2 separate regions of the Homo sapiens genome follow, and region 1 is linked to region 2. Evidence: fine-mapped expression QTL. A gene starts in region 2. The other region holds a variant in brackets. All regions are shown on one strand. Distances are between the middles of the regions. Region 1 overlaps MXI1 (MAX interactor 1, dimerization protein). Region 2 holds the start of MXI1 (MAX interactor 1, dimerization protein).

The links. PIP is the estimated chance that this variant, and not a neighbour inherited with it, causes the effect.
Region 1: its variant is fine-mapped to the expression of MXI1 in T cells (TOPMed, PIP 0.96).

Annotation. Positions count from the first base shown.
Region 1 is chr10:110,267,433-110,271,823 of GRCh38, forward strand. The region is part of intron 3 of MXI1 (MAX interactor 1, dimerization protein); the gene reads left to right. Among named protein-coding and RNA genes, the nearest start is that of SMNDC1, 35 kb to the right of the region's middle. The variant G/A (reference allele first, on the strand shown) is at 2,110.
Region 2 is chr10:110,205,126-110,209,516 of GRCh38, forward strand. It overlaps MXI1 (MAX interactor 1, dimerization protein), which reads left to right and starts at 2,480. Exons shown (of 6, transcript NM_130439.3): 1 at 2,480-2,957. The coding sequence starts at 2,684. RefSeq lists an enhancer at 561-1,061 and a silencer at 2,651-2,730.

The DNA of each region.
Region 1 (4,391 bases), 62 kb after region 2:
TTGGACCATTGATGCAACCAAATATGTCATTTTTCTTCAGAATTGTAATGTTTGTAGGCTTTTTCCATCTTGATTCACTTTATTCCAGCCTGATTCACAATTATTCCTTTACAGAACAGCTTGTATTCGACAAAGCTGTGAAAAAAATCACTCTTCTCTAAATAAGGTTCTTTTTTTGATTAGAAATCCCATCTTTGCAGTTAAAACATTTGTAAACATAACACAATTTAGATAGAGCTGATTGACTTTTCAAGACTGCTATTTTTATAATGGAAAAGAATTTTTCTTAAAGAAGCAATTTGGTGATGGGGCCCTTAGAATGTCCTTGAAAACAGCTGGAATTTACTGCTAGCATATATTGGGTCAGATGAATGAGGGAGCATGGGTTTGGCTGATTTGCAATGTTCAAGAAATATTGATATTCTTAGAAGACAATACAGAATATATGTTGGGTCTTATTTTCCAAAATGTCAAAGTGTCCTTCATATGCCTTTTGTTCTGTGAGATAACAGTTGTTGGTGATCCTGAAAGATGTTTTAGAACTTTCATCCTGCAGTATCTGAAAGGAAATGTAGCCAAGATTGGAAAATTTAACCTCCATACTCTACTGGCTTCTTTAGTTGGAGTAGTGGTCAATATGTTCTTGCTGTTGGAATATACTTAGGCGAGAGAGCCACACAACCTGCCTGATGAACAACTAAAATATTGACTGGCAATGGTAACAAAATAAAACATGTTCCCCTCCACCTGTCTCTTCCTTCTTTTCTCAAATCCCTGGAACTGTATAGATTTTTCAGGGCTGTTCTCCTGAGCTATTGATGAAATGAAAATAATAGCACTTGTGTAGCAGTCCTTAGAAAACTGTAATGGTATTGAGCTGAGGCTGGAATCATATAAAATAAATACTAGAGCTTTGATTCCTCTCTCATTTAATCTTTTCCTGGGCTTTTCTAGAGGAGAGTCAAACTAAGATTTAGACAAATATAAATAGAAGCAAGTCACACAGTGTAATGTTGCAACCCAGATATAACTTGAACCCAGTCTTTTACTTGATAAAGAGGAGATAATTGTAATTGTTGTTAATCTATCAAACACCTTTCCCTTTTCAGAAGGGTTTTAAAAAATAAAGTAGTTCTTAAGGCATGTTCACTTTCTATCTACCTAAAAGTGCTAATCTGTAAGTGCCCTACTATATATAACACTGAGAAAATTTCTGCCTTATCAGAGGAGGGCATGCCCAGGATTGGTGCCAGGTGTTGTGTTATGCTAGGCTGCCTCCAAAAGTTACTCTCAAAAACTACTCTTCAGTTGGGCCCTTTGTGGTCAGGAAAAAAAAAAAGTGATACAGTATAATGAAAGAGAGGTCAAAACAGTTAAGTAATTTAGAAATAAAAAGACATACCAAAACATTGATTCTCTATTATTATCAGGGACTATGGCGTATTTTAAATTCTGTAAATTTTATTTTTCCAGAGGTTGCAAATGGCCTGTAAATGCTTCAGTTATTAACAACAACAACAACACATACACACATACACACTGGCCAACAATTCCTCTTTGTTACCCTTTTTCTACTGCAAATTTTATCTCCTCCTCACCAAAAAACAAACTGCATTTTGATTTTGGGAAAATTGTTCTAAAATGGGACTTTAAAAATAATTCCTGGCTGGCTTGACTGGATTGGCAGATGTCCAGCAATGCCAAACCATTTGCCATCTGCCAGTAGTAAGCATGGTTACCACTTTTAATCGTTTAGCTCTCTATTTCAGGTTGCTCATATTCAGTACAAATTATGAATATTCGCCTTCCAGGGATGAATTAATTCTTGGGCCAGATTGTTCCTGTTCCATTTAATAAAATGTCTTTCCTCCTATATGAATATTCCCCTTAAAATGAGCTATTATACAACTCACATCTTATTAGTAGGGCCACTTTTAAAGGTGCTTTGCTATTTTCATTTTCTGCTTCTAGATGAACAGCTATATTACAAAGCATTCTTTAAATGTGCTGTTTTGTGCTATGTAAGATCACCATTTTAATTAGAGATCAGTAACAGTATTTCGTCATTTCCCTCTTCCATCCTGGACAATAATTTGATACAATAAAGCA[G/A]TTACACTGGGCTCTGGGTGGGAATAGAGCTGTGAGAGTTAGACTTAAACTTTTGTAGAAGAGAAGACTTAATTCTTGCATTTTGTACATAAAATTAGGTCAGTGTCTTGTAGAACATTATCACTGCGTCTCAGATCTCACTTGCCAGCACGTAGGAAGTTTGTTTTGGTTTCAAAATGTACTTTACCCCATGGTGGCTGGCAGGGTACAATACTATTGACATCACTGTGTTTCAAATAGAAAGTTAACAAGTAGCTACTGTTGTGATTGCAGATTGCCTTCCCAGTCCCTGTGAGAGAATGCTTTTTCTTTTGGACAGCAACACTTCTCAGCCCCTTGGTACCATTAAATCAGCCAATGGGGGCTGCCAGAATAGAGATGAACACCAACAAAAGGCCAAAGAGTAGAAAAACTGTTAATAAGGCAAAAATCTTTAATCAGTTTCCAAATTGATGTGAAAGATAATTAAAAAATATTCTCTCCCATCGATGGCTAAGTTTTGACAGTAGTCCAGGTTCAGAGCCTGATCTCTCTAGAGAGGAGTATCCCTTCCCTCTACCCAGACCCCTGGAAAGTTGCCAAAGGAAAATAAGCTATTTTGTATTTAGAACAAATTGCCACTGTTTTCTCCAGTGATGTAGCCCTATTTCCCAGACTTTGAAACTTGGAATACAGAAAGTTCTTGTGTGACCAAAGAAGAAATATGGTGAATGAATGATCAAGTTTTTCTTTTTAACTAAATCCTTATAAACAGATAAGAGAGGGGAAGTATGCATAGAAACTAAATTTAGCACAGAATGGATGTCAAGTGAGCAATTTCTGTTAAATCACTTTGGAGTTTGGGTTCCTTGTGGGAGTTCCAGTGAAGAACAAATGCCTCTGGAACAAGATTTAATTATTTTTTTTTTTTTCAAATGAGGCTGTCAAAAATGAAGTCTTCCTTAGACATGAATGCAGGATAATTAAAAAAAATAGTTGTTTATATGTTCTGCACTATAGTCTTCAACTTAGCAAGCAGTCCATGGATCTGGTAAGCATACACTAGTTTCTCATTTATTACATGGGATTAAGAACTGTTGACTTAATTTTTTTCTTCTTTGCATTGTGGAATATTGCTTTTTAGACTTTCCCTTCTCATACCTTGGTTTTCTTAGCTGTTTGTTTTCCTAGTCCTAGGCCCCTTTCACTGTAAATACTTTGATAAAGTCATTCTGTTGTAAAAGCTGCAGTTCTTAAACCCTTTGCTTCACTATTAAAAAAGGTGTTGGCCGGTTGCGGTGGCTCATGCCTATAATCCTAGCACTTTGGGAGGCCGAGGCGGGCAGATTGCCTGAGCTCAGGAGTCCGAAACCACCCTGGGCAATATGGTGAAACCCCGTCTCTAGTAAAATAAAATAAAAAAAAATTAGGCTTGGTGGCACATGCCTGTAATCCCAGCTACTCAGGAGGCTGAGGCAGGATAATTGCTTGAGCCTGGGAGGCGGAGGTTGCAGTGAGCCGAGATCGCGCCACTGCACTCCAGCTTGGGCAACAGAGTGAAACTACGTCTCAAAAAAAAAAAAAAGTGTTGACTCTCATCAAGAGTTAGGTTGGAGACTGTTGGTTACTCTACATGTAGACATCTTTGGTGGTATGCACCTTATTAACATTTGCTGGTGATTTCAGCTGCACCAGAAAAAAAAAAGGTTAAGAGTTCTGGCATTCATAAATAGATCTCTCACAAATGCTGGCCTGGCATCTGATTATACTGTTTGGAGGTCCTGGTGTTGATTGTTACCTCAACTTTGGTGAGTTAGAGAGTCCCAGAAACATCCACTAGAAGTATTACATCTCTCCTCCCCACTGTGTGCCAGTCATTCTGTTTATTTGAAAAACAGAAATGACTAAAAGTATGGATTCACTCTCAATTGAAATACAGTGTGATTAGTATGAAATCAAGTATCATCTGAGGAAGGAGTATGGCAAGGATGATCTTGTGGAAGAAATTGTTTGGCCATGGCCTGAAAATGAGTTAGATGCCCACCAGGTGGACATTTGGAGAGAATGCATTCCAGGTAGAGATATTGGCAAGTATAAAAGCACATTTGGTTATGGAAGAGGTTTGCAAGGGTATGAGTTATGGGAAATGAGGCTGGAAAGGTGGTAGGCAGAGGACTAAATTATAGTCTTCAAACAGGTAAAGATTATACTACTGACAACTTGAAAAATCGTTATAGCATTTAGCTCAGTGGTATAATAAGGCACTATTGTTTACTGATGATAATTGTTATTGACTGAGTGGC
Region 2 (4,391 bases):
ATATGATTTAACACTTGATGGGCTCTGAAAACAAATAAGGAGGGGGCTTCGGGCTTTAGCTTGGCACATTCGTCGTTCCACATACGTGTTACCAAAATGAATATATGCAACTAAACTATATGCGAGACTCTGGGGGCACAGTAACACAGACTTTGTGAAACAAAAAGGCATTTCTCCTGCTTCCACTGTGTCTCTTGTGGTGCCATTGTCTGATGCTAAGAACTCACATAATAACAAAAAACAATGCCCCTATGATGGGGGGAAAACTTGATTTGGCACCAGCCGTGGTGTTTTCCATGGGAATGATGGTGGGGGCTGTGGCCGACTGTGGGAATAGTGCAAATCAGCACTTTTTTGTAGATTTTCTTCAAGCCATTGTTTATTTTGGCTTTGGTCAGATCCGTGGCCCAGCTTGAAGATTCCCACTGGGCTTTCTGAAACTCGCAGACCTATGAGAGATGGAACAGGGATAAATAAATAATTACAAAACACCCTTCCCCCACCATGGCACTCATGCATGCGTGTGCCTGTCTTGGTGGTGCATGTATGTTGCAGTACTATACATCTGACCCATGCCACCAATGGGCAATTAAAGAGAAAGCAAGGTTTTCTCTGGGCTTAGCTGGTTCATTGTCTCAGTACCATCTTTCATTTGGGGCAAGAGAGATCAGAGCTGTTTCACACAAGGGCCAGTTTTTGCAAAATGGCATTGGAGAAAGCTTGTTTGAAACTGTGCATACATGAGGTCTTCCTAACATTTTTAGATGTTTACAGGCATTTCAACACGAATAACTCAGGTTGTGGTTCTCACAGAAGCAAAAAATCAGTAATTGTTCTAATAATGGAAGATAAACTTTTTTTTTTTTTTTTTTTGAGACGGAGTCTGGCTCTGTCGCCCAGGCTGGAGTGCAGTGGCGCTATCTCGGCTCACTACAAGCTCCGCCTCCCGGGTTCACGCCATTCTCCTGCCTCAGCCTCCGGAGTAGCTGGGATTACAGGCATGCGCCACCACGCCCGGCTAATTTTGTATTTTTGGTAGAGACAGCGTTTCTCTATGTTGGTCAGGCTGGTCGCGAACTCCCAACCTCAGGTGATCTGCCCGCTTTGGCCTCCCAAAGTGCTGGGATTACAGGCGTGAGCCACTGCGTCCGGCCATCAAGAGTTTTTATGACAATGTGTATGAAGCTGCCTTTGAGTAGGGTGGCTGCATCGCACACCTCCAGGGGGCAGCATTGTCTTTGTCCTCTATATAAATGGTTCCCCTGGAGGAAAACTCCAGGTGACCTTGCAAAGTAACCATATTTAGATGGGCTTGTCATAGAGATATTTTCCAAGGAAGTGCAGAAGAGTCTTGTTCACTACATCTTGTTCCTTTCTTAGATACAAGTTACATCAGAATAGGGGACTCAGGCTCTTGCCTGGGTCTGGATTGGAAGAAAAAGAGCTTACCATGGGCCAGAGTGTGCTAAGTCAGATACAATACACAAGCATCTTATCACACATTTCAATGATGTGGAAACTTAGGCCAAGAGAGGTTAAGGGACTTGTCCAAGCTCACACAGTCTGTATGCAGCAGAGCTGGGATTTGAACCCTTTCCTATGGCACCCTAGAGCAGCCTTCAATCATCCCCTGACACCTCCAGTACTTCCCAGGGCTGGAAAGCATCCATGATTGCGGACAGCAGTGGCAGTGAAACAATGTCAGCTGGGGTAGGGGTTTTCAGAGGCAAAAGGTGGAATTCAGCTGGGGAGGGGGGTGGTTCCTGAGCTGCCACTTCTGCCTCTCAAATTAAAGGGAGCCAGGTGTGGAGGCATCCTGGTGTGAGCTTTGCACAGCTGAACCAAGGCTGGGCAGAGGAGTGTGGAGAGGGATGCTGACATCTCCTCCCACTTCTGGAAAATAACTTTGCATTTGAAGGGAGAAAGGCATGAGTAAATCTGTAACTCGGATTTGGACGGCCTGGGATTTCATTTGACTGTGTGAAGGCACACACAGGTGCCTCGCAAGTGTGTGCGTGATTACGTATGTATGTGTGTCTGTGAGTAGGAGTGTTTGTGTTGGGGGTGGGGGGATCTTCTGGTTACACACTGGTTCCCTTCTTCCCATTTGGATTGGGGAGCTTTTATTTATTTATTTTTAAGTCATAGCAGCCACCATGTATGGGGACCTAACTATGTGCCAGGCATTGTGCTGGACACTTTCTGAGGCATTATTTTTCTGTGAAAAAAGTAGTTTGTTTTTATGCAGGTGCACCCAGAGACATCAGGTATTTTTTTCCATTCCGGTTAAAAGACAGTGTTCTACTCTGTGGTAAGCCTTGGGGAGAGGCAGGGAAGCCTGCGGGGACGGGCAGGGGCGGTCCCTGCCTCGCTCGCTAGTCTCCACCTTTTATTTTGACCGGTCCGATGGCGACAGGCTCGCACTAGGACCCAGGCGCCAGAGTGCCTCCGTCTGTCCTGTAGGTTCATTCAATCTCCCATACACACAGACTCACAGCGAGACCGACACACACTCCCATACACTCACACACACAACTGCAGGCAGCGAGGCTCGGGAAGTCAGGCCGGCTTTTCGCCCCGGCGCCTTCTCTGCTCCAGCCGGCCGGGTCTCCCTGGGGGCCCGGAGCTCGGCCGGGCCGCGCAGCCCCGTTAGAGGACGAGCTCGGCGGACCCCCGCTCCTCCATGGGCAAACGCGGGCGGCCGCGCAAGGAGGCGCGCTGCGAGGGCGCGGGGCTGGCCCCCGCCGCGCCCCCGGCTGTGCCCCCCGCCGTGGCCGCGCCCCAGCCCCCGGCCCTGCCCGAGGACCCCGCTGGGGCCAAGCCCAGGTGCCCCTTCTCAGACATTTTCAACACCAGCGAGAACTCGATGGAGAAGCACATCAACACTTTTCTGCAGAACGTGCAGATTCTGCTCGAGGCCGCCAGCTACCTGGAGCAGATCGAGAAAGAAAACAAAAGTAAGTTTGGGGGCCCCTGCTCTTCCTCGGCGCCCGGTTCTTTCTTTCTCGCCCACTTGGGCGACCCCTGTTGCGAGCTCGGCCCGTCCCCCCCCCGCCCAACATACACATCCAGCCCTTGGCAGTAAAGCCGATGACACCGGAGAAAGGACACGCACGCACAAAGCTGCTAAAGATGTAACAAAGACGGGCGAGGGGGAGAGGGGCCTGTCGGTGCGTCGGTCTGTCCTCTCCGGCGGGCTGGGGCTGGGAGGATGGCCCAGCGGAGGAGCGGGGGAGTGTTGTTGTTTGCTGACAACTGAGCCGAGAGCTCATCTCTTTGAGGTCGCTTTTCTTCCTTTTTTTTTTTTTTTTTTCCGGAGCCTTCTCAGGCAGACAAGTGTTGTTTTTCTGTTGCTCGTTCCTGGGTGGGGTGGGGATTAGAAGCCGAAAGTTGGAAACCATAGGCAGAGCTCAGAGGTTCCAGAAAGAAAACACACAGACACACACTACAACAATAACAACCAAACAGCTCTCCACGGCGTGGGCTCGGCTCTGTCTCTCTCTCTCCCTCCTACTTCGCCTTTTTCCTTCCCTCTAGCAGCAGGACTGGGCTCAGGCCATCACGTCTACGGACACAGTCCCCCTGCACGTCCGTTGCCGTGGGGTGCCACCGCCGCCCCCCCCCCCCCAAAGAAGGAGGCCGGCGGGGCCAAGCAACGCCAGCAGCTCGCCCCGGACACGCCGTCCTGAGCCCGGGAAACTTGGCCGTGGGGACGCGGCTAGAAGGAAACTTTGGGATCTTTGAGAAACAATAGTTGGGGAAGAAGGTGTGGGCTGTTCTGTGCTTTTTCTTTATTTTCCGGGAGACGGCTCTTGAGTGAGCGCACAGGGCAAGCAAGGCAAACGCCTTCCTGGTCGATTTCTACTCCCCCCACCCGCCCACCCCCAGATTCACGTGGATAGTAGTGCGTGGGTGGGGGTGTGCTGGGAACCCCACCCTGGCCTGGCTTCTTTTTTGTATTTATTTGTTTCATTTTTGCCCCTACCAGCCAGGTCACCCAGCTTTCCCCAGGCAGTCGACTCAGCGCCCTAACGGGGGCACGCGTGTGCAGCGTATCCAGCACCGTCCTCAGAATAATAGCTGTGAAAAGGAGGAAGGGAACTAGGCAGACAGACCGACAGATAGGGGGAAACCGGGATGTTTAATGTGTCCGAACAAGTAGGAAGATCAATGAGGCGCGAGTGTGTGTGTGTACGTGTGCGCGTGTGTGTGTGAGAGAGAGAGAAAGAAAGAAGAAAGGTCCCGATTGCAACGTGTCAGATCTTGCAACCTTCCCCCCACCCAACACAACAACCCTCAGACACAAAAACACCATTGCTGACTGATACCCCAGGTCTTCAGGGTTAAAGGAACCGTGTGTTGGCAGCGCAATTGTGCAGACGCTGTAAGGC